Linked DNA regions of Homo sapiens. The protein of the gene in region 1 purifies or fractionates together with the protein of each later gene. This does not show direct contact. Each region holds a gene or a part of one and is shown on either strand. Other genes may lie near its edges.

Evidence for each region.
Region 2: the proteins of TRIM26 (region 1) and KRT6B purify together in Homo sapiens (affinity purification with mass spectrometry, with the first as the bait; one large-scale study listed by BioGRID). This does not show direct contact.
Region 3: the proteins of TRIM26 (region 1) and METTL8 purify together in Homo sapiens (affinity purification with mass spectrometry, with the first as the bait; one large-scale study listed by BioGRID). This does not show direct contact.
Region 4: the proteins of TRIM26 (region 1) and CCDC124 purify together in Homo sapiens (affinity purification with mass spectrometry, with the first as the bait; one large-scale study listed by BioGRID). This does not show direct contact.
Region 5: the proteins of TRIM26 (region 1) and NQO1 purify together in Homo sapiens (affinity purification with mass spectrometry, with the first as the bait; one large-scale study listed by BioGRID). This does not show direct contact.
Region 6: the proteins of TRIM26 (region 1) and CHERP purify together in Homo sapiens (affinity purification with mass spectrometry; one large-scale study listed by BioGRID and IntAct). This does not show direct contact.
Region 7: the proteins of TRIM26 (region 1) and CTSZ purify together in Homo sapiens (affinity purification with mass spectrometry, with the first as the bait; one large-scale study listed by BioGRID). This does not show direct contact.

Annotation. Positions count from the first base shown.
Region 1 is NC_000006.12:30,199,907-30,203,406, forward strand, and holds part of TRIM26 (tripartite motif-containing protein 26), read right to left. Parts: intron 1,233-3,500; 5' UTR 1,129-1,232; intron 1-1,128.
Region 2 is NC_000012.12:52,446,151-52,449,146, forward strand, and holds the end of KRT6B (keratin, type II cytoskeletal 6B), read right to left. Parts: intron 2,818-2,996; coding exon 2,692-2,817; intron 1,849-2,691; coding exon 1,628-1,848; intron 1,424-1,627; coding exon 1,389-1,423; intron 1,276-1,388; coding exon 1,040-1,275; 3' UTR 501-1,039; downstream 1-500.
Region 3 is NC_000002.12:171,332,991-171,336,490, forward strand, and holds part of METTL8 (tRNA N(3)-cytidine methyltransferase METTL8, mitochondrial), read right to left. Parts: intron 1-3,500. UniProt on the Homo sapiens protein: Mitochondrial S-adenosyl-L-methionine-dependent methyltransferase that mediates N(3)-methylcytidine modification of residue 32 of the tRNA anticodon loop of mitochondrial tRNA(Ser)(UCN) and tRNA(Thr).
Region 4 is NC_000019.10:17,931,641-17,935,814, reverse strand, and holds the start of CCDC124 (coiled-coil domain-containing protein 124), read right to left. Parts: upstream 2,801-4,174; 5' UTR 2,767-2,800; intron 720-2,766; exon of another isoform or gene 624-719; intron 1-623. UniProt on the Homo sapiens protein: Ribosome-binding protein involved in ribosome hibernation: associates with translationally inactive ribosomes and stabilizes the nonrotated conformation of the 80S ribosome, thereby promoting ribosome preservation and storage.
Region 5 is NC_000016.10:69,716,561-69,720,060, forward strand, and holds part of NQO1 (NAD(P)H dehydrogenase [quinone] 1), read right to left. Parts: intron 1,975-3,500; coding exon 1,810-1,974; intron 1,694-1,809; coding exon 1,563-1,693; intron 1-1,562. UniProt on the Homo sapiens protein: Flavin-containing quinone reductase that catalyzes two-electron reduction of quinones to hydroquinones using either NADH or NADPH as electron donors.
Region 6 is NC_000019.10:16,521,938-16,525,437, forward strand, and holds part of CHERP (calcium homeostasis endoplasmic reticulum protein), read right to left. Parts: coding exon 3,305-3,500; intron 1,354-3,304; coding exon 1,115-1,353; intron 1-1,114. UniProt on the Homo sapiens protein: Involved in calcium homeostasis, growth and proliferation.
Region 7 is NC_000020.11:58,994,685-58,997,254, forward strand, and holds the end of CTSZ (cathepsin Z preproprotein), read right to left. Parts: intron 2,118-2,570; coding exon 1,955-2,117; intron 1,076-1,954; coding exon 965-1,075; 3' UTR 501-964; downstream 1-500. UniProt on the Homo sapiens protein: Exhibits carboxy-monopeptidase as well as carboxy-dipeptidase activity. Capable of producing kinin potentiating peptides.

The DNA.
Region 1 (3,500 bases):
ATTACAGGCGTGAGCCACTGCACCTGGCCAAGAGACCCCTTTTGTTTGCTCCTCAAGGTTTCAGGTTTCAAGAACTAAGAGAGGGCAATGTGACATGGCTCACCCTGTAAATCCAACACTTTGGGTGGCTGAGGCAGGAGGATCACTTGAACCGAGGAGTTTGAAACCAGCCTCAGCAACATAGTGAGACCCTGTCTCAACTAAAAAAATTTAAAAATTTTTTAAAATACCCCAGTGTAGTAGCATGCATCTGTAGTCTCAGCTACTGAGGAGGCTGTGGCAGAAGGATTACTTGAATCTGGGAGGTGGAGGCTACAGTGAGCCATGATTGTACTACTACACTCCAGACTGGGCAACAGAATAAGAGACTGTCTCAAAACAAACAAAAAACCAGAAAACATTAAAAAACAAACAAACAAACAGCACTGAGGTTCTTTACCAAAACTCGAGAAGCATCAGGAAGCTTCAGGAGTCTGACTGTCAGCATTTCCCTTTGTGAGTATTTCCCTGGGCTGTTCTATAGTTTGGGTTTAATTTGCTTCCCCTAGAAGGCTGGACTCTAAACACAGCCCTCCAGAGGAGCACAGCTTAGCCTCAGTGGACTTGTTCTTGGCTGTAACTGCCTCGTCTAGATGGCAGGAATCCTCAGGTGGCTGTGGCTGCTATGTGCTGTGAGGCCTTGGCTTGTACAGGGAGCGGGGACACACAGAAAGGACTCTGCTTCTGTTTACCTTTGTAGTCCTGACCCAGTTCCAGGCTGAGGTTATGAGCCTCAGCACATCTAACCCAAGAGCAGCCTCCTGCCCCTGACTCTGTGTGACAATACAGAAGTCACTTAAGTACTGAGCCTCAGTGTATCCATCTGTAAAATGGGAAGAGTGATACTTACCTTTAAGGGTTTCTAAGCAGGTCATGTGAAAGAATTATGGGAAAAGTGCTAAGCACAAGCCTGGTACACAGACGGAAATCTAGGAGAGAACCCACAACCCCTGGTTTCCAAATCCAGTGAGTGTCCAAACCACAAACAAAGAGTTAAATTCAAAAGTGGCAGCAAAAGAGGAAGTGAGCAGAACCAGCCACAGTGACACACGTGCTACAGAGTTCAACAACATCGTCACAGGGCAGTACCTGGAGGACTTGCTCTCCTATAGATCCATGGAAGGCAACTACAGCAGCGCTGGGAAGACAACCAGCAGGGCACAGAGGTGACTGCGAGGCTGGAATGAAGCAACCTGAATTACAGGCAAATCAATACTATTAATGATTATGTATGGTGAAAGTCCATCACAACAGAGTTCAGTGGCCTCTGTCAGTAGTGACATTAATGGGACAGAAATAAAACCCCCAGTCTATAAGACCCAAGAGTAAACAAAACAGGGATATAACGTCCACTCATTGAGGGTCTAGTACAATAATACATAAAAAGTGTTTTATAACGTAAAAGGACTACATAAATATAAGAGATTCTTATAGTGCTGATAATAAATTCCAACTGGAAGCACTAATGGATCTAGGTATGTGTGACTTTAAGAGACATAATGAGGGGAAAATCAAGCACCTTCAAAGCTCAAATGAAGGATTCAAGGAATTTAACTGTCAAGTGAAAGTAATATCAAGTTCCTACATGTTAGTAATGCTGGTAGAAATGCTAGGAATTGGCCGGGCACGGTGGCTCACACCTGTAATCCCAACACTTTGGGAGGCCGAGGCAGGTGAATCACAATGTCAGGAGATTGAGACCATCCTGGCTAACACGGTGAAACCCCATCTCTACTAAAAATACAAAAATTATCCAGGTGTGGTAGCATGCACCTGTAGTCCCAGCTACTCAGGAGGCTGAGGCAGGAGAATCAATCACCTCAACCCGGGAGGCAGAGGTTGCAGTGAGCCGAGATCGTGCCATTGCACTCCAGCCTGGGTGACAGAGTGAGACTCCATCTCAAAAAAAAAAAAAGAAAGAAATGCTAGGAATTGCCTGGTCCAACTCCTTGGCTTTACTGTTGAGGAAATAAGCCTGGCTCAGCAGTTTTTCAGTTGTAACATACTGCAAGTGTTTGGAAAGAGGAAAAAGGAGTGGTACTGGGCGTGTCTGTGGGCTTTCAAGCCCTTTATCATGCCTCTTTGCCAAATGGCCTAGAAGTTTAAAAGCTGAGGTTTTTCTTTGTTGAAGGATAGCCTGTGTTATCTTTGGGTTGGGAACTTATTTTGCAATTTACTTGCAAAATAAGAACAATAAAAGGACTATGAAGAGCTCAGCTACAGCTCTTCTTCCATGCAAAACAGGACACCTCATCACCCAGGCTCCATGCTGGGGTTTGATGGTCTCTAAACCTCCTGAAACTGTCTAAAAATTATTGCATATGTACTAGATACCTAAAATTGTCTGGGGATTACAGAAGAATAACCTTCTGTAAGATTAATCAGCAAATAAGTAGAAGAGGGATAACAGAATTAGAAAATCATTTTGCGACTGCCATTATAATAGCACAAGGATCATCAATAGATGCTAAAACTATTAGGTGAAAAGTTTTGGGGGATGAGATAGTACCCATGGTGCCAAAGCACCAATGAATGGATTACTTCCTGACATACCTTCATAAGGAAGAGATCCAGTGGTTATCTTAACTAAGTGACCAAATCCAGCGTCATCAGCAGACGGGGCAAAGTGGCATGTGCTTTCTGGCATGGCACTATATGAATCACACAACATTACCTATGAAGTGTTTGTGCCAAAAATGTTTGACTTGAATGAATCTAGTCAAGACTTTAGATCTAACTTCCAGTTTATAAAAAATATAAAGGAAAGGAATACTCTGAAGTATGTTATAACTGAAAAAGTACCGATGGAGGAATTAAACCACACCATAAGGAAAGAACCAGATAAATCCAGAATGCTGGACATTGCACATGGCAACTGGCCTAGTCTTTTAAAAAGTCAATGTCATAAAAAAAAACCTTCGAAAGAACTGCTTTTGATTTTTACAGACTAAAGAGAAATAATAACCAAATGCAATACGTGAACCTTGATTGGATCCTGTAAAAAGAAAAAAAAGGTTATAAAAATAGTCTTGGAACTATTGTGGGAAATTTGTAAGTAGGCTGGGTGTTAGATCATATTAAAAAATTATTTCCTCTCTTTCTTTTTTTTTTTTTTTTTTTTGAGACAGGGTCTTACTCTGTCCCCCAGAGTGCAGTGGAACTATCTGGGCTCACTGCAACCTCGGCCTCCCTGGCTCAAGCAATCTTCTCATCTCAGGCTCCCGAGTTGCTGCAACAACAGGTGCATACTACCACACTTGGCTAATTTTTAAAGGTTTTTGTAGAGAAGAGTTGCCACTATATTGCCCAGGCTGGTCTCAAACTCCTAGGCTCAAGCCATCCTCCCACCTCAGCCTCCCAAAGTGCTGGGATTATAGGCATGAGCAACTGCACCATGTCTAAAATTATTTTCTTAATGGTATTTACTGAGGTTATGTATGAGAATGCCTATACTTCTTATT
Region 2 (2,996 bases), on another chromosome or scaffold:
CAAAAGTCTTAATAATCATAGAGTCAGGGCAAGCACCTGCTTCTTACCAAGTGTTTCTGATCTGCAGGGTCAGTGCAATATTTCCCTGGTGGTGGGGAGCCGGGGAGAGAGGGAGTCTCAGAGATCAGTGTGGGGTCAAGCCACCAAATGATGGGGCTGAAAAATAAAAAATATAAATGAATCTTAGTTATCAGATTATGCTGATCCAGATTCCAGGAATTAGCTTCCCTTTTTGTTCTGATGCTTTATAAAAGACTCCATTTGTGGAAAAATTCCCAAGTGGTGAGGGCTGAGTAGTTGGTGATTGTCCACCGGAGTGTCCGACAGAATCACATAATGTTGACTGATGGAGTAGGCTGTGGAGGGGGAGCTCCCGACTCATCCTCCATGATGACTGGTCAGTGGGGAGAGCAGCAGTTCCCCAAAGATAAGAAACCATTTGTGGGGTGCGAATGTTTCTAAACCAGGAAGTGGTCAGCAATACAATCTAACACAACATGTTCACATTCTCAATATGCTTTATTCAACAGAACAAAAGAAGGCAAAGAGAGCAGAGAAAGCAGTGCAGGAATGCAGACTGCATCAGAAGGTACATCACTTGCCATTCAGGGACACTGCAAGAGAAGATCAGGACAACTGACTTGTCAGATGAGAACTCCTGAGTGTAGCTATAATGGGCAGGATGGTTAGCAATTAAAGAGAGGACTCCTCATCTGCAGCTGGACCTAGACTGAGTTTCAGTTCTTATGGGGATATAGGTCATTTTCTTCTCAGAATTATGGCAGACTCAGATACCTGTAATAATACGGGAACTAAAAAGGACATTCGCATGTCTGAGTGCTGATAACTGTTGACTTGATGGTAAGCAACAGGAGCTCAGTGGAACAGGTATTGATGAGAAGAAAAGTGAGGGCATCCCAGCTCTACCCGGGAGGGCAGGGGAGACTGGAGGCCAGGGGAGGACAAGCAACCTGAGGAGAGGGCTCTGCTGCCAGAGAGGGGCCTGAGAGCTGTGGGACTGAGAGCTGGCGGCAGCACTTCAGTGCTTGTAGCTCTTCCTGCTGGAGGAGGAGGTGGTGGTGTACTTGATGGTGGAACTGCCGCCTCCAACAGAGCTGAGGCCACCCCCAGTGGCTCTGCCGCTGCTGGAACTAAAGCCGCCTCCAACGCCAAGACCACTGCCATAGGAGTAGCTGCTTCCTCCACCCAGGCCTAAGCCACTGCCGACACCGCTGGCACCGCCATAGCCACTGGAGACGGTGGACTGCACTACAGCTGTGGTGGGGAGGGGACAAGGACACAAGAAGCCACAATGAGTTCATCCTGCCGGCCTGAGCCCAGTCAGGAGAGTGCAAGGGCAGGGGAGGAAGGCAAACAAAGGTACTTACAGATGTTGACTTGTCCAACGCCTTCGCCATTCAGCCTGTGGAGAGGAACACAGGGAGGGTGAGACCTTCCCTGGACGAGCATGGGAAGCCTCAGTGGGTGGGAAAGTCCATGGGAAAACTTTTAGTTTTCTCCCAAGAAGAGCAATTATGGCCTTGGGCAGTGCACCTTAAAGTTGTGCTCAGTGCCAGAACCTTGAAGATGGACTCAGCTGTTGGAGGAAGTCGCGTCAGTTACCCACCTGCACTCCTCGCCCTCCAGCAGCTTGCGGTAGGTGGCGATCTCCACATCCAGGGCCAGCTTGACGTTCATCAGCTCCTGGTACTCCTTCAGCAGCCGGGCCAGGTCCTGCTTGGCCTTCTGCAGGGCATCCTCCAGCCCTTCCAGCTTGTTCTTAGCATCCTTGAGGGCCATCTCCCCACGCTGCTCAGCATCAGCAATGGCGGCCTGTAGGTTGGCACACTAGGAGGGCAAAGGAAGAGAAAGAACTTGTCATCTGGTCTTCCAGAGAAGAATAAACCTGGCTGGTTCTTTTCCAGTGAAGAAGGCACCAGGAACCCAGAACTGATGGTAAATGAGCTCTGACTCTTCCTGTCTAGCCTTTTTACTGTCTTCAAAGTTTTTACGTCTGGAGTCACATGATAAAATCCTGTGCCCTTTCTGTTAACTCCACTGCCTAAAGATGTGGGTGATGACCAATGGAAGATGCCACAGTGGACACAAGACCAAGGACATTAAGTGTTGGCTCCAAAGCAAAAAAACCAAAACCATTTTTGATGACCTTACATGGATGCCACAATAATTTGCAAACGTTGTCAACTGAGGTGATGAGTTTTCACATGAGGCTGTTGTGACCTTGCCTTCCTCCTGCCTCACATCCTCTCACCTGCTTGGGCCACGTTTTCCTTCCTCATAGCCCTGGTTTCACTTGCTTTTTCACCGTGAACCTTGAGCAGATTTGCAGCAATGTTACTGATGCTTTCTGACCTGACATCTTGCCCAACTTGGTCCTTTGCAATTCCAAAGTCAATCAGTCTTCTTACATAAGCCCTTCCAATGCCTCTAGACTATACTTTTACAGCTTTGACCAGCTGAGAGTGCTTCTGCCCAGGTGATTGTTTCATATCCTTGGGTGTGATCCATGTCTCTGAGCCAGAGTGTTCTCACTGAGCCTAGGAACTGCATGTCTTTCCTTCTCTGCTTATCAATCAATTCCCAAAGAATTTTACTAAATGATGGGTGACTACTGCCTCATGACCTAATAAAAAAAATGATGCTTTTCTCCTCCATTGCCCCTCACCATACCTGCTTCTTGACGTGGTCGATCTCAGATCTCAGCCTCTGGATCATGCGGTTGATCTCAGCAATCTCCTGCTTGGTGTTGCGCAGGTCGTCCCCATGTCTGCCTGCTGTGATCTGCAGCTCCTCGTACTGCAGCCCAGAGGTGGAGAGAGAGACAGTGTCTACGGGTTCTTACCTGGGAGCGATGACTTTCACTTGTGTATCATGAATGTCATGAAGTGGACCTAATGGCTTCTCCCCAAGAAACTTGAGGAAAAGTTGATGTTATGTGGTGGGTGGATACTAAACACTGGAGTCACAGACCATCC
Region 3 (3,500 bases), on another chromosome or scaffold:
ATTCCAAGCAAGGTGAACCTCTAAATAAATATGGAATTTATTTAGCTAAATAAATATGCATTTAGCAAAATCTGACCCAGGTGCAGGTTATACTCTTTTTTTTTCTTTTCTTTTTTTTTTTTGAGACCCCAGAGTTTCGCTCTTGTTGCCCAGGCTGGAGTGCAATGGTGCAATCTCGGCTCACTGCAGTCTCCGCCTCCTGGGTTCAAGCAATTCTCCTGCCTCAGCCTCCCAAGTAGCTGGGATTACAGGCATGTGCTACCACGGCCGGCTAATTTTGTATTTTTAGTAGAGACAGGGTTTCACCATGTTGGTAAGGCTGGTCTTGAACTCCTGACCTCAGGTGATCCACCCACCTTGGACTCCCAAAGTGCTGGGATTACAGGAGTGAGCCACCGCACCTGGCCTCAGATTATATTCTTAAAGGCAACTCATTGATGAATAACTATGATAACATATAATTCACTCATTCTATGGCACTAGGGATTTGCATTCAATTTAAGATCTATCCAAATAAGTTAAAGTATGATTAATAGGATTTTGTTATGAAAAGCTAACCAGTACTGAATCAAAGTTAAAACTCATACTGCTTGGTCTTTTCTCATCTGTCAAACATAAAAATAGCACTTTACTTCAGCATGTTCCCCTGTTTTTTTCTGATTAAATCCATATAATTGTGACTTGTAATTTGCTGGGTGTTTGAAATGTATTTGAAATGTTCTCAGTAAACACTCAGCACTATGTGGCTAATGGTTAAGGGCAGGGGCTTTGGAACAAGACTGCCTAAGGTTTGAGTCTCAGCTTTACTACATAGTTGCATGACCTTGGGCTAGTTGCTTAATCTCTTCTTTAATTCAATTCCCTCATCTTTAAAAAAAGAGATAAACATGGCATCTAAGATGGTTGTTTGAAGTGAATGGATTCTTATAGCTAAAGTTTCCAGAAAGGTGCCTGATTCAGAGTAAGCACTCAATAAATGTTAGTCATTATTATAATTGTTGTTGCTATTATTATCATCACTATTATTATTAAAGGAGATTGTTTTTGCCTTCCAGGAGCTTAAAAACTAACATAGTCCTCTAAAACAAAACAAAACAAAACAAAACAAAACAAAACAAAAACCAAAAAACTTCCATATAGTTCAAAATGCTTTTCTGGACACTGGTATGTCTAGCTCATTATAAAAGGTCTGCAGTCTACCTTTGGGCAGTAGTTACCACATACCCATAAGATATAGAACAGTCTACGAGCTAAAGGAAAGCATGTGCCATATGCCATGTGTCCTGCCACGGTGGCAGCATGACCTCTAAGATGGAATTCCCACTGTATCAGCAGCCCAAGGTGATGTCTTGTGACCACCCAGTGACTTTCCAGAACCTTTCTGTAAAATCAGCTGACTACCTTGGCTCTTCTCCCAGCAAACAGGTGTAAATATCACTACTACCACCACACCACCAAGCACTCTCTTGGCAGGGGTCTATGAATTAAATGATCCTTGGAGAATGATATGACCTCTCCATTTCAGAGGTCTAATTATGGTAAAATATTCTGAAAATGTAAAACATTAATCCTACACTCTCTAAAAGTAGTAAAACATAATTTCTTAAGCAGAAAAAAAAAGTCTAATAATTCCTTTGGAAGGCTAATCACTGGTTGCCTTTAAAAGATGAATTAATTATCTGAGGTTATTGAGCTACAGTAATTTCTAAAACATAGGTATGAGGCAAAGAAAGACAGAGCTAAGAAGAAAGAGTTAGGGAGTGAGGAACCAAGAGCTTGCAATTATAAGCTGAAGGGAGAAGCAGAGGTGAAAAATACAACTAGCAAGTGGGGGAATGAGAGATATTAATCAGGCAATATGTATTGAGCTCCAACTAAGCTGTACTGTTAGGCAACCTGGGAAATCAGATTAGGATAAAATATGCCCTCTACCTTAAGGAATATAAAAAGTGGTCGGAGAGACAAGGCATAAATAAATGACATGCTAAATAATACCTTGAGATCAGTCATAAAGTAACACACAATCAACTGCCAATGTAGTGTATTTACGTGTATTATAAGCTCAGAGACCACTGGGGTAAAGGAATATGGCTATGTGACATAAGCAAGTTTGAAATTTCAGCCCAGAAACTAGAAAAAGGAAAACAAAACTAACAAAGACACAAACAGAAAGGACATTCAGAACTGTAAATTTACCAGCATCACCCAGGCCTGGCCACATTAACTGGTTATTAAATGATAGTAGGAAACTACTCACTATTCATTATGTTAGGTTTATAATAATATTAGAGAGTATACTGAGTTTTGGGAGATATATCCTGAATAATCAAGGATAAAGTATCATGATGTTGGCATTATATTGGTAATTGTTGAATTGAGGTGTTAGGCATATGGAAATTCACTGTACTCTTTGCTTTTCTGAATGTTTTTTAATTAAAAAAATTTTTTTTGAGACAGAGTCTCTTGCTCTGTCACCCAGGCTGGAGTGCAGTAGTGCGATCTCAGCTCACTGCAACCTCCACCTCCTGGGTTCAAGCAATTCTCCTGCCTCAGCCTCCCGAGTAGCTAGGATTACAATTGTGCACCACCACACTCAGCTAATTTTTGTATTTTTAGTAGAGACAGGGTTTCACCATGTTGGCCAGGCTGGTCTCAAACTCCTGACCTCAAGTGATCTGCCTGCCTCGTCCTCCCAAAGTGCTGGGATTACAGGTGTGAGCCACCGCACCAGGCCCCAGATGCTTTTACATTTTAATAATAAAAAGTTTAAAAGATCACATCATTTAAAAATATGCATAAAGACTGAAAGGAATTAAAACAAAAATTTTGTCAGTGGCTATGTTAGGATGATGAGTGATTCCCTCCCTCTCCTTTTCCTCTAATGGAAATGTTCTGCAACGTGCTAATGCTGATTTTATAATGGAAAAATAATGTGAACTTAAAAAAAATGTGTAAACTTAAAAAAGAATAGAGCTTGGCAGATTGGCCATAGATAAAAGGTGTTTGAAGAGTTTTGTGTGTTCATCATGGAAAAAGTAAAAGACACAGGTGAAATGGTGAACAGGAAGGGTGAGCCTGGAGCAAATCTCTGTCCCTGTAGTCAAACTCTGCTTTTTTTTTTTTTGAGACAAAGTTTCGCACTGTTGCCTGGGCTGGAGTGCAGTGGCGCATCTCAGCTCACTGCAACCTCCACCTCCTGGGTTCAAGCAATTCTCCTGTCTCGGCCTCCCGAGTAGCTGGGATTACAGGCGCCCGCCACCACACCCAGCTAATTTTTTGTATTTTTAGTAGAGATGGGGTTTCACTATGTTGGCCAGGCTGGTCTCGAACTCCTGATCTCGTGATTTGCCCGCCTTGGCCTCCCAAAGTGCTGGGATTACAGGCATGAGCCACCACGCCCGACTGCTTTTTTTTTTTTTTTTTTTTTTTTAGACGGAGTCTCACTCTGTCGCCCAGGCTGGAATGCAGTAGCGAGATCTCGGCTCACTGCAAGCTCGGCC
Region 4 (4,174 bases), on another chromosome or scaffold:
GGTCAGGAGTTCAAAACCAGTCTAGTCAACATGGTGAAACCCCGTGTCAACTAAAAATAAATAAAAATTGCTGGGTGTGGTGGCGGACACCTTTAATCCCAGCTACTCAGGAGGCTGAGGCAGGAAAGCCGCTTGAACCTGGGAGGCAGAGGTTGCAGTGAGCCGAGATCGTGCAACTGCACTCCAGCCTAGGCGGCAGAGTGAGACTCACTCTCAAAAAAAACCAAAAAGCTGGGTGTGGTGGCACATGCCTATAATCCCAGCTACTCGGGAGGCTGAGGCAGGAGAATCACTTGAACCCGGGAGGCGGAGGTTGCAATGAGCTGAGATCACACCACTGCACTCCAGCCTAGGCGACAGAGCGAGACTCCATCTCAAAAAAAAAAAAAGGTGTACAATTCAGTGTTTAAGTATATTCACAGCGTTGTGCAAATACCACCTCTGTCTAGTTCCAGAACACTTGCACCCCCCAAAAGAGGCCACATCACCATCAGCAGTCACTCCCTATTCCTCTTCCCCTAGCCCCTGGTAACCATCAATCTGCTTTCTGTCTCTGTGGCTTTCCCTGTTCTGGACATTTCAGTCCATATCAATGGAATCACAGGCCGGGTGCGATCACTCACGTTTGTAATCCCCGTGCTTTGGGAGGCTGAGGCAGGAGGATTGCTTGAGGCCAGGAGTTCAAGACCAGCCTGGGCAACATAGCAAGAGTCCGTCTCTACAAAATAAAAAATAATTAGGCACAGTGGCTTGTGCCTGTAGTTCCAGCTACTTAGGAGGCTGAGGTGGAAGGATCGCCTGAGCGTAGGAGGCTGAGGCCACAGTGAGCTATGATTGTGCCACTGCACTCCAGCCTGGGCAACAGAACAAGACCCTGTCTCTTAAAAGAAAAAAAAAAAAAGGAAACAAGGAAACAAGGCACCAATACATACATGATACAATGTGGTTGAACCTCAACAACACAATACTAAGTGAAAGAAGCCAGACACAAAAGGCCACACAGTGTGAGAGTACATTTATTTATTTATTTTGGAGACAGGGTCTCACTCTGTCGCCCAGGCTGGAGTGCAGTGGCGAAATCTCGGCTTACTGCAGCCTTGACCTCCTGGGCTCAAGTGATCCTCCCACCTGAGCCTCCTAAGTAGCTGGGACTATAGGTGCAGGCCACCATGCCTAGCTTTTTTTTTTTTTTTTTAAGGCAGGGTCTGACTATGTTGCCCAGGCTGGCCTTGAACTCCTGGGCTCAAGTGATCCTCCCGCCTCGGCCTTCCAAAGTGCTGGGATTACAGGCCTGAGCCACTGCGCCTGGCCCTTCGTTCCTTTTTATGGCTGAATATTCCTCCACTGCATGGATACGCCACATTTTGTTTATCCATTGTCCACAGCTAGACATTTGGGCTGTTTCCACGTTGGGGCTTTTTTTTGTTTTGAGACGGAGTTTTGCTCTTTCACCCAGGCTGGAATGCAGTGGCACAATCTCGGCTCACTGCAACCTCCACCCACCCGGTTCAAGCAATTCTCCTGTTTCAGCCTCCCAAGCAGCTAGGATTACAGGCACCTGCCACCACGCCCGGCTAATTTTTGTATTTTTATAGAGATGGGGTTTCACCATGTTGGCATGTGCCACCATGCCTATCTGATTTTTGTATTTTTAGTAGAGACGGGGTTTCACTATGTTGGCCAGGCTGGTCTCAAACTCTTGACCTCAAGTGATCCGCTTGCCTCGGCCTCTCAAAGTGCCTGGATTACAGGTGTGAGCCACAGTGCCTGGCAATTTCTGCTGTTTAAGCCACCCAGTCTGTGGTATTAGTTATGACAGCCCAAGCTGGAAATACAGACACTTTTCTCTGTGTAGTAAACACTCACTCACTTGCACACGTCATTCAATAAATATGTACTGGGCACCTAATACGTGTGCGATGCTGGGGAAAGAGGTGGCACAAATGAGCTTTCTGCCTGCATGGGACTCCCAGAGAAGAGCCAACACATGCAATCAGAGTCCTAATAAGGACACGCAGGGCGCCGGGGAAGCCCGGAGAGGGCTTCTGACCCAGCCTGGGTCAAAGGGCTTCCTAAAGGAGACATCTAAGGAAAAGTCTGAATGAGTGGGGGAGAGCGCAGCCTGCACGCGGGATGCAGGAGGTAGGCTGGAAAAGGGGGCGATTTGTATTCCAGGGAGATGGGAAGGTGTGGAGGGCGTTAGAGCCGGGAAGCCCAATCTATGGGTCACACAAGCCCTCTGGGGTTAGTGAGGAGGTGGACTCCCCAGATGGCAGGAGCTGGGAGCCCAGGCGGTACCCAGGGAGTGGCTCAGGCTGGGCGAGGGGCACACTTAGAAGCGAATCAAGACCCATGGGGATTAAGACCCCACGGATGTGAAGGTAAAATAACAGAATACAAAATTCAACAATGCCTCCTCTAAGCAGCCCTCCCGGCTATCCCTTTTGAAGTCCCCCACCACTAATCCCCCTACAAGAGGCCGGGGGAGTCCGCGCCCAACTCTGTCCCTCTCGAGACCAGAAGCTGCCTAGGGGCAGTCCGGGGCCAGGTGGCCTCGAACATGCTGTCGCGTCGGGCTTCAATCGTCTAGTCTGGAAATGGGCATCGCCCCCAACTAGGTGCGGTTCAGACTGGACGCCAGAAGTGCTCCTGCCTCCCAGCACCCCTCCTCCAGCCTTCCCAGGGGATGGTCCCAGGCCAAGCAGCCCCCGCCCCGCGCCTCTGCTCCCCGAACCCGGGTTCCGCCCGCGCCGCAGACGCTCCTACCTTCTTACCCCAGCGCCGGCCCGGTCGCGCCTCCGTGACGTCATCATGGGGCCTGCGCGCTGAGCTCCTGGCGGCGCGCACTCATTGCGCCTCAGTACCGCCGCCATTTTGGTAAAGAAAAAGATGGCTGGGCCTCGGACCCAAGCCAGGGTAGTCAGCCACTTCTTTGTCTCTTCAAAAAGAGGACACTTAATACGCCCTCATTCCCTACGCTCATTTAATATGTTGATGAACCAGGAGGGGCGGGCAGAGGCGAAAATCTAGAACATTGCCTTTACCAAGATGGCCGATGCCCGGATGAAAGATGGCAGCTGCGACTACACACGTGGTCCGGCGGCTTCAGCCTGGAGCGGCCCGGCCGCCAGAGCGCGCCCGCGGTCCATGAGGGGAGGTGGACCCAGTATAGCCCTGAGGAAGCCTCTCCGTAGCTCTTCGCAATCCCTTAACGCTTTAAAAGTGCTTTCCTAGTCCTGAGTCTCTGCGTCCCACTGGTGACGCTGGGGCGGGGCTAGGAGAGGGGAGATAAATGGGGCAGAGAAATTAACACACACCGCGCAGTCCAGGTAGGGAAACCGAGGCTCAGAGAGACCAGGAATTGAGTTTGGCCAAAATGTAACCGCGAGTAGGCTCATAACCGCGAGTAGGCTCAAATTCCGTCTCTTGCTCCTGCCAGTGCCTCTTCCTGGATTGCTGACCTGCTCCCCACTTCTGCAATATTATTTATTAATTTTATTTAGAAATTAGGTTTGAGGCGCCAATTTGTCTTAGGCACTATACTTTAGATTTTCTGCATTTACTACTTCTCGGTGTTCTCAACAGTAAAAATGGCAGTATTAGGGGTCTAAGGTTACACTGGTCCTGACTGTGGAGAGGGAAAAGCAAATGCTTTGGGGGCAGTTCAGGTAGGAGTAGTTGACCACAGAGTCCATTCCCTAAAAGGCATCCCCCCAGCGACCTTGCTGGGACCTAAATCCCAGTGCGCGATGCACCTCCCCTGCTCTAACGCCTCCCCTGGGTTCCCATTGTCCCGCAAGACTCCTCCCACCTCCCACCCCATCTCCCTTGGCTTCCCTCACCCTCCCATTAGCTCTCTGCTCAGGTCGCACCAGCCCCCTTCTTACAAATTGCCAGGCGCAGTCTTGCCTCAGGGAGTTCCCCCAGGAATTTCCCAGGTTTTTCCGTGGCCAGTTCCTTCCCTTCAGGCATGAGACAGAAAGGTCTCTGGGTGCAGGGGGCTTAAAGTCGGAAAATCACATGAAAGATTATTATCCTGGCTGGTCGCAGTGGCACATGCCTGTGATCCCAACCCTTTGGAAGGCTAAGGTGGGAGGATCGCTTGAGGCCAGGTGTTTGAAAGCAGCCTGGGCAACATTATGAGACCCCATCTCGACAGAAGATAAAAACATTA
Region 5 (3,500 bases), on another chromosome or scaffold:
AAGGTTCATCAGGGACTTCCCATGAGAAAGTCTTGTCTGACCTCTTATCCTAATAAAAGCAGAGTAAGGACTATACCAGGAGGTTTTCTTATCCTTGATTCATGATTTAAAGATATGAAAGGCACATGCCTATAATCCCAGCCTTTTGGGAGGTCCAGGCAGGCAGATCACTTGAGCCCAAGAGTTTGAGACCAGCCTGGGCAACATGGTGAGACCCTATTTGTACAAAAAAATTAAAAAATTAGCAGGGCATGGTGGTGTGCACTGATAGTCCCAGCTATTCGGGAGACTGAGGTGGGAGGATCATTTGAGCCCAGGAGGTTGAGGCAGCAGTGAGCAGAGATCATGCCACTGCACTCCATCCTGGGTGACCGTGAGACCTTGTCTCCAATTTAATTTTTTTTTAAAGCCGTCCTTTGGGGTACTGGCTAGTGGCATGTGGCTTTGATTCTTAGCAACAGGCCTGTGGGTAAAATAAAGGACTTCAAGGATTGGATGTTTTGTAGCTGATTGAATAACTAAAAAAAAAAAAGAGAGAGAGAGAGAAAAAAAAAACACAGCCTGTACCACCCTCCTCGTGGTTTCCAGGATCATATACATTCTATGTTCAATATCAAAAGACTGGCTGGAATTGTAAAAGCAAAGTCATTGAGTACAGTCACATTTATAGGAAAGATCACTGACGAGATGCACGCACAATCCCAGCATTGTCTGCTAAACGGTAAGGCAGCTTCCCGAAGAAGAAAGGCCGTGGTTTGCTGCAGGAACACATTCAGCAGGGTTTCAAAGCCCCCTTCAGCTGGCAGGCTACAATGGCAGAGAAGTCAATGTCTCATGGATTATTCTACAAAGTATTTGGGATTCTTATGGAGAAAGGAGGAGAACTGCAAATTTTGAGAGAGTCCAACAGGAATCGCTAACCGCAGGATTCGCTAACTGAAGGAATCGCTAACTGAAGGAATCGCTAACTGAAGGGGAGACTAAGTACCTGGAAGAAAGCAAGCTCAAGGACTGTACATCATCTCTGCAGCTGCATTTCTTTCTTTCTTTTTTTTTTTTTTTTGAGACAGAATCTCGCTCTGTCGCCATGTCACCAGGATGGGGTGCAGTGGCGCAATCTTGGTTCACTTCAACCTCCACCTCCCGGGTTCAAGTGATTCTCCTGCCTCAGCCTCCAGAGTAGCTGGGACTACAGGCACATGCCACCACGCCCAGCTAATTTTTGTACTTTTAGTAAAGACAGGGTTTCACCATGTTGGTCAGGATGGTCTTGGTCTCTTGACCTTGTGATTCACCTGCCTTGGCCTCCCAAAGTGCTGGGATTACAGGCGTGAGCCACCGTGCCTGGCCTTGCAGTTGCATTTACACATGCAACAGTAATACAGCCAGATTCCCAATATCTGTGAAATCCATGTAATACTGCACCTTTAAAGTAATCACCCTTATTTGCAGAGAATGCAGTAAAGTGGGTAACTGTTTAAGATCTCATAGCTAATTAGGTACATGTCTAGGACAATAAGCACGCAAATGTCCCTGACACCCCTTCCGATGTCCCCCCATACCTGGAATATCACAAGGTCTGCGGCTTCCAGCTTCTTTTGTTCAGCCACAATATCTGGGCTCAGATGGCCTTCTTTATAAGCCAGAACAGACTCGGCAGGATACTGAAAGTTCGCAGGGTCCTTCAGTTTACCTGCAGAGAAGAAAAAGAGAGGCTGGGGCCAGAGGGGCCAAAGCTGGGCCAGAGGACCCACAGGCAAGGAGATCCGCAAAGAACTAATTAAAGAGGGGAGGAGGAACTCCTCCTACCTGTGATGTCCTTTCTGGAAATGATGGGATTGAAGTTCATGGCATAGAGGTCCGACTCCACCACCTCCCATCCTTTCTTCTTCAAAGCCGCTGCAGCAGCCTCCTTCATGGCATAGTTGAAGGACGTCCTCTCTGAGTGAGCCAGTACGATCAGTGCTCTTCTGCCTACAGAGACACACACAAAGCACACACGGAAAACCCATTACCAACCAGCAAACCTTCAGCTACAGGGGAGTTGCAGTCTGTAAAGGAGGGGGCGGCTTTGTTTGACATTAGGTTATTGCATTCCATCTCCTGTAGCCAGAAATGTATTTTCCCCTTAAAAGCACTGAAGATTAAAGGAAGCATTTAAATCAGTGGCTGATTTAATAAATAATGTTGACAACTGGGCTCTGTGGCTCATAACTGTAATCCCAGCACTTTGGGAGGCCAAGGTGGGCAGATCACCTGAGGTCAGGAGTTTGAGACCAGCCTGGCCAACATGGTGAAACCCTGTCTCTACTAAAAATACAAAAATTAGCTGGGTGTGGTGGCAGGCACCTGTAATCCCAGCTACTTGGGAGGCTGAGGCAGGAGAATCACTTGAACTCGGGAGGGGGAGGTTGCAGTGAGCCAAGATTGCACCATTGCACTCCAGCCTGGGTGACAATGGGAGACTCCGTCTCAAAAAAAAAAAAAGATGCTCTGCGTGACCTGTCAGGAAAAGCAAAATTAAAATGAGACATTTACCCATTCGTTTACATGGGTACTGTGTTTACATTTACCGTGAGTTTACATTTACCCACAAAATGTAAAACAAATAACACCCAGGGTTATTAAGATTGTACCAACAGAAAAATTGGCACCTTACTGGTGGGGATAAGAACTGCCTCAACCTTTAGGGAAAGTAATGAGGCAGAATCTCTTGAAACTTTAAAGACACATAAATCTTTTATCTCGCTCTCCAATTTGGGGGAATCTGTTCTACAGACTAAAAGCTTCAGGCTATAAGAGCAAAGATGTGTATTACACCATGCTTTTCACTGGCAAAAATTAGATATAACCTGATTGTCTATGGGGAACATTTTAAGAAATTATGGGTACATCCACACTACAGGATATTTTGCTGTTAACAAGAATGAGTTGGCCAGGCACGGTGGTTCGAGCCTGTAATCCCAGCACTTTGGGAGGCTGAGGCGGGCAGGTCACGAGGTCAAGAGATCAAGACCATCCTGGCCAACATGGTGAAACCCTGTCTCTACAAAAATACAAAAATTAGCTGGGTGTGGTAGCGGGCACCTGTAATCCCAGCTATTCGGGAGCCTGAGGCAGGAGAATCGCTTGAACCCAGGAAGCAGAGGTTGCAGTGAGCTGAGATCTTGCCACTGCACTCCAGCCTGGGTGACAGAGTAAGACCCTGTCTCAGAAAAATAAATAAATTAAGATAAAAGTAAAAAATATATAAAAAAGAATGAGTTAAACTGGCTGGGCACAGTGGCTGGAGCCTGTAATCCAGCTACTTGGAAGGCTGAGGCGGCAAGATCCCTTGAGGCCAGGAGATGGAGACCAGCATGGGCAGCATAGTGACACCTTGTCATAAAAAAAAATTTTTAGAGACTGTTGACCAGGTACGGTTGCTCACGCTTCTAATTCCAGCACTTTGGGAGGCCAAGGCGGGAACATTGCTTGAGCCCAGGAGTTCAAGACCAGCC
Region 6 (3,500 bases), on another chromosome or scaffold:
GAACACCCTCTGGTTTATTCAGACATGCAGCGGGCCCCTCACGTCACCCTTTGCTTGCAATGCCTACCCTGGGCCCCCGCTCAGAACAGCCTCAGCCCCGGCCCTGGAGCCCCCTGGCCTGTATCCTTCTTCTGCTCCGTCTCTGTCCTCCTGTTGAGGCCCTGCCCTGCCTGGCTTGCCTGGGCCCCCGCCCGCAGCTCTCCCTGCTGCCCATGGCTCCGTGAAGTCTGCCTGGACTTCAGGTGGATGTGTCTGAGGGGGTGGGAAGTGGCAGTGGCCAGCATGCCCTTGGAGGCCCCAAGCCCCGGCCCTGGCCTCCCCAACCCCCCCTTTTTTTTTTTGAGACGGAGTCCTGCTCTCGCCCAGGCTGGAGTGTAGTGGCGTGATCTCGGCTCAGTGCAAGCTCCGCCTCCCGGGTTCATGCCATTCTCCTGCCTCAGCCTCCCGAGCAGCTGGGACTACAGGCGTCTGCCACCACGCCTGGCTAATTTTTTGTATTTTTTAATAGAGACGGGGTTTCACCGTGTTAGCCAGGATGGTCTCGATCTCCTGACCTCGTGATCCGCCCGCCTCGGCCTCCCAAAGTGCTGGGATTACAGGTGTGAGCCACTACGCCTGGCCAGACCTGGCCCCTTCTTGCCTCACCTCTTGCCCTATGCTCCGGCCATCCCACAGTGGTACCAGCTGCTGCCAGCCCTGCCCGGCTTCTCCAGGGCCACCCCCCTCCCTGTGTGCTTGGTAGGCACAGCTCACAGGTGGCTCCTTCTAAGACATTCCCTCCATCAGCAGCCCTGGGACAAGGTGCTTCTGAGGCCCTGGACCAAGAAGGACGAAGAGAGGACTCGAGCCTCATAGCCTAGCTAGCCCCACATGGCTGAAGCTCCCTGTGGTGGGAGGGATAGGAGGGGCAGGGCAGGGCAGACATGGTGTCGCTCACAGCCACACCGTGCTACTCCGGTTCGGCACCTCCCACTGACGGATCAGGGTCCCTAGGGAGTGGGAGATGAAGGGGAGCCCCGGAAGGCACCCGGTCCCGTGCATTCACTTTTCACAAGGAGAAACGGGGACCAGTATGGTAAGCGTGCTCAGCTTGGAGCCCACTGTGGGGCATTACCTTCACGAGGGGGGCCATCAGCCCAGCAGGGAGATCGAAGTAGGGCACATTGGGGACCAGGCTGGGGTCATCGTGGTTGATGTGGGGTGGGCCCTGTCGCCGCATGTGTGGGGGCTGCCCGTTGAAGCCATGGGGGGGAGGGCCGAAGTCAGGGTGCTGGGGTCCAGCCCAAGGCGGGTGCTCGTTGATGCCAGGATGAGGCATGCGGTGGCCAGGGTGGTGGTGAGGGGGCCCCATTTCTGCAAAACAGAGACTTGCCTCAGGACCACAGGCCAGTCAGGATCTCCCAGGCGACAAGTGCTGGAGGGGAGGGGCTCAGTGAAGGGCCAGGAGACGAACCCCTCCTGGGAGCCTGTCCAGCATCTTCTCTCACTGCTTAAGACCAGGCAGCAAGGCACCGAGGAGCCAGGCTCCGAGGGGCCTGTCCCGCACCCATAGGCACAGCCGAGGGAGCTTGAGGCTGAGAGAAGAGAACCCCAAAACCCCAAAACTGCACGGTGAGGGCTAAGTTGTGACCCTCCGAATCCATACGCTGAGGTCCCAGCCCCCAGTAGCTCAGGACGGAACTGTATTTGGAGACAGAGCCTTCAAAGACACAAATGAGTTAAAATGAAGCCATAGTGGCCCGAATCCAACGTGACTGTTGCCGTTATAATAAGAGATTAGGACACAGACATGTAGAGAGAAGACGGTCACCTATGAGCCAAGGAGACAGGCCTCCAAGACACTAACCTGAACCCGCCACACCTCCACCTTGGACCTCCAGCCCCCAGATCCTTAAGACAATACATTCCAGCTGTTGAAGCCGTCCAGGCTGTGGGACTTATCATGTCAGCCCAAGCCAAAAAGTAAAAGCAATAAATGTGCCAAGCGGTCTTCAAGCTGCATTTATAATCAGAAATGTATTTAAAGAGAGAAGGCTGGGCATGGTGGCTCACGCCTGTAATCTCAGCACTTTGGGAGGCCAAGGCGGGTAGATCACTTGAGGCCCAGAGTTTGAGACCAGCCTGGCCAACATGGCGAAACCCCATCTACTAAAAATACAAAAATTAGCTGGGCATAGTGACTGATGCCTGTAATCCCAGCTACTGAGGAGGCCAAGGTGGAAGAATCACTTGAACCCAAGAGGAGGCTGCAGTGAGCCGAGACTGTGCCACTGCACTCCAGCCTGCGTGACAGTGAGGCTCAGTCTCAAAAAAACAACAAACAACAACAACAAAAGGCCAAGCGAGGTGGCTCACACCTTTCATCCCGGCACTTTGGGAGGCCGAGGCGGGCGGATCACCTGAGGTCAGGAGTTCGAGACCAGCCTGGGCAACATGGTGAAACCCTGTCTCTACTAAAGACACAAAAAATTAGCCAGGCATGGTGGCGCACACCTGTAATCCCAGCTACTCGGGAGGCTGAGGCAGGAGAATCATCTGAATCTGGGAGGCGGAGGTTGCAGTGAGCTGAGATTGTGCCATTGCACTCCAGCCTGGGCAACAGGGTGAGACTCTGTCTCAAAAAAAAAAAAAAGTACTAAAAGATTAGAAATAAAATCAATAACAAAGATACTAGGCATGGTGGCTCACATCTGTAGACCCAGCTACTCTAGAGGCTGAGGTGGGATGACTGCTTGAGCTCAGGAGTTTGAAAGTAGCCTGGCCAACATAGCAAGACCCCATCTCTATTTAAAATAAAATAAAATTTTTTTAAAAAAGAAAAGTAGTTTTTTGTTTTTTTTTTTTGAGACAGCGGTCTGTCGCCCAGGGTGGAGTACAGTGGTGCGATCACAGCTCACCGCAACCTCAGCCTTCTGAGCAGCTAGGACCATAGGCGCCCGACACCACGCCAAGTATTGATTTTTTAAACGAACTAATACAACGGGAAAACTGATGCAAAAAACAAGCAGCAGCAGTAAAAAGAACGAGGCCCCGCCCTGCCCTCGCCACGCCCACCCACGGCAGGAACCTTTTCCTACTGGCTCTGCCTCATCTGCAGCCAGCCGGGCCTCATCAGGGCGGCAAAACTGAGTCTGTGCCCCCACTTCCTGAGAACCCAGGCCGGGCTCCTCGGACGTCCCATGACCCTGTGTCTGTCACTGTGCACTCAGGAGCATGGCAGGGCCACAAGCAGCGCCACCAGCCTGCTCGGCAGGCGAGCCGTGGATGCCTCCGCCAGGCCCTACCCAGGCGCCCGTACACTCACCGGCAGGGAAGTCCCCCTGGGGGTAGTCGAAGCGGTGGGGATAGGGCGGCCGCTCGAAGGGGTGCCGTGGCGGGAAGTCGTCCTGCATGAAGCGGGGCGGGAAGCGGTTGAAGTTGTGGGGGTGCGGAGGCTGGTTGAACTGCGGGTGCTGCTGGTGGGGCGGGAAGGGCCCCCGGAAGTGTGGGGGCCGCTGCAT
Region 7 (2,570 bases), on another chromosome or scaffold:
ATCCTCCAGAGCTGAAGCAGAACATTCCAGAACCCGTTGTGGAAAAACCCTTTCAAGAAGCTGTTTTAAGAGGCTCGGGCAGCGTCTTGAAAATGGGCACCGCTGGGAGGAGGTGGATGACTTCTTTACAAAGGAAAATGGTAGCAGCTTCAGTGAGAAACTGCCCTTACAAACAGTCCCTTCTCTGCTGTCAATCCAATACTGCTCCCAAATCCTGTTTTCAGTGTTCATTTCCCTCAAGGCAGGCGCTGGGCTCCCACGACCCCTCAGGACAGATCTGGCCGTCAGCCGCGGGCCGCTGGGAACTCCACTCGGGGAACTCCTTTCCAAGCTGACCTCAGTTTTCTCACAAGAACCCAGTTAGCTGATGTTTTATTGTAATTGTCTTAATTTGCTAAGAACAAGTAATAAGTAAATTTTTAAAAAGCCTTTCTGCTGGGTTGGATTAAGTCCTGATGTGACATTGTTTTTGTGTGCGAATAAGGCACGGGCAGCCTCAGTCTCGTGCAGAGCCAGATACTTTATTCATCACTTGGGCGATTTGAAACTGCCAACTCCCTCCCTCCCTCCCCCACCCTTGATTCTAAAGTGACATAAGAATGGTGATAAGTCTGAACTCTTTCACCTCTTAAATGCCATATTATTGCCCACAGTTGCCAAATACAAAATATCAAGTCCTCTGCTGAAGAAGACTGAGGTCCCATCGTTTCCTGTGTCGCAGGTCACTTCTTCACCAGGTGGCTGACTGCATCATTGTGAGGCAGAGCCATGCTGTGCAAGTGTCATAAGTCATCCCACTTTCAACTCTCAGGAACACTCGCAGCCAGTGCCACGCTGTCCTCGCCATCCAATATTGATAGCCACCCCAGTTCCTGCCAGCCAGCCTGGCACACATAACCATAGGATCCCCTCTGGTCATGGGTCACCATGCCTTTTCTTAAACTGCGCTTCTAGTGACATGGCCTTAAACGATGGGGTCCCCAAATGTACAGTGCTCCTCGATGGCAAGGTTGTATCTGGCGCCCTTCCCATCCTTATAGGTGCTGGTCACGATCCTCAGCCAGCCTCTCTCGCCCTGTGAGAAGTGGGATCGCGCGTCAGCCCATCTGCAGCCGTCTCCCGCTCCCCTTGCTGCCGTCAGCCCCCTGCCCCCTGCTTTCTGCCTCCATCTCTCAGGCCAGCCTTGGGGGATCCAGACAGCCCACTCAGCTGCCCCTCAGCTTTCCCATGACCCCTGTTCTGAAATACCTTTTGTGAAACATTTCACTTGGTTAATGTTTAACATGAGGGCCCTCTATGCCAGAAGTGAATTCATCTCACAAAACATGTTGACTCTAGACTGGTGCCTCCTCCAGCTACTACTACCCCCATTAGTCACCTAGTAAAAAATGACGACATTTCATCACCTGCACATGAACCGCTTTCCCCCCATTTCTTAATCATGAATTTCTGTGTCTTAAATTATTAATGGCTAAGACTAGGTCTGGCAGTTAATTTCTCTCTCCTGGATTTTTGGCCCAACTCGAGTATTTTTGAAAAACCGACACAGTATTTTAGGGGAGCCCAAAAACCATGATGGGAAAAAGAATGAGCTGGTTGTAAAGGAAGAGGGTGGCAGAGCCCCTCTCCAGCAGTGCTCACAGGGACTTCCCCAGGGCACCAGGCACCATCTGGAGACGGTTTTGGTCACACTGGGATTGCGGGGAGTCACCTAGTGGGTGGAGGGGCCAGGGATGCTGCTGAACACCCAAAGTGCACAGGATGGCGGCAGCCGCGCATGTCAGAGAAGGGTCTGGCCCCAAAAGCCACTCGCGCGGTGGCTGAGACAGCTGGAGCAAGGAACCCTCTGTCAAGGCCCCAGTTTTTAGCTAAACGTAAACAGAACCATTCAAGCGAGAGGAGTACCAGGACGTTTTTTTCTAGGAATGACCTTAAGAAAATGAAAACATCTTACCCATGGTTCACCCCATGAATTCCGGACAATCCAGTACTCAGTCCCATCACTGATGCCCCACCCAGCCACAGAAACGACATGGTTTATATATGTGGTGTCCTGGTATTCGGCATAGATGCCTCCGGTGTAGTTAGCCAGTCTTTCTGTTGCCATTATTCCACAGCTGAGAGCAAGCAGTTAAAGAATTACCACTTTTAAATTGAGAGAATTTACCGTCATTAGAAATAATCTGATATGGCTGGGCGCCGTGGCTCACGCCTGTAATTCCAGCACTTTGGGAGGCCGAGGCAGGTGGATCGCTTGAGTCCAGGAATTCAAGACCAGCCTGGGCAAGATGGCGAAACCCCACCTCTACAGAAAATACAAAAATTAGCTGGGTGTGGTGGTGTGCGCCAGTAGTCCCAGCTACTCGGTGGAGGGGGCTGAGGCGGGAGGATAGCTTGAGCCCGGGCGGTCAAGGCTGCAGTGAGCGAAGATCATACCACTGCACTCCAGCCTGGGTGACAGAGTGAGACTGTGTTTCAAAAAAAAAAAAAAAAAAAAAAATCTGGTATGACAACAAAGTGTAAACCCGACTCAGGTAGTGTATATCTGACGGTTCTGGATAAACTTCTGT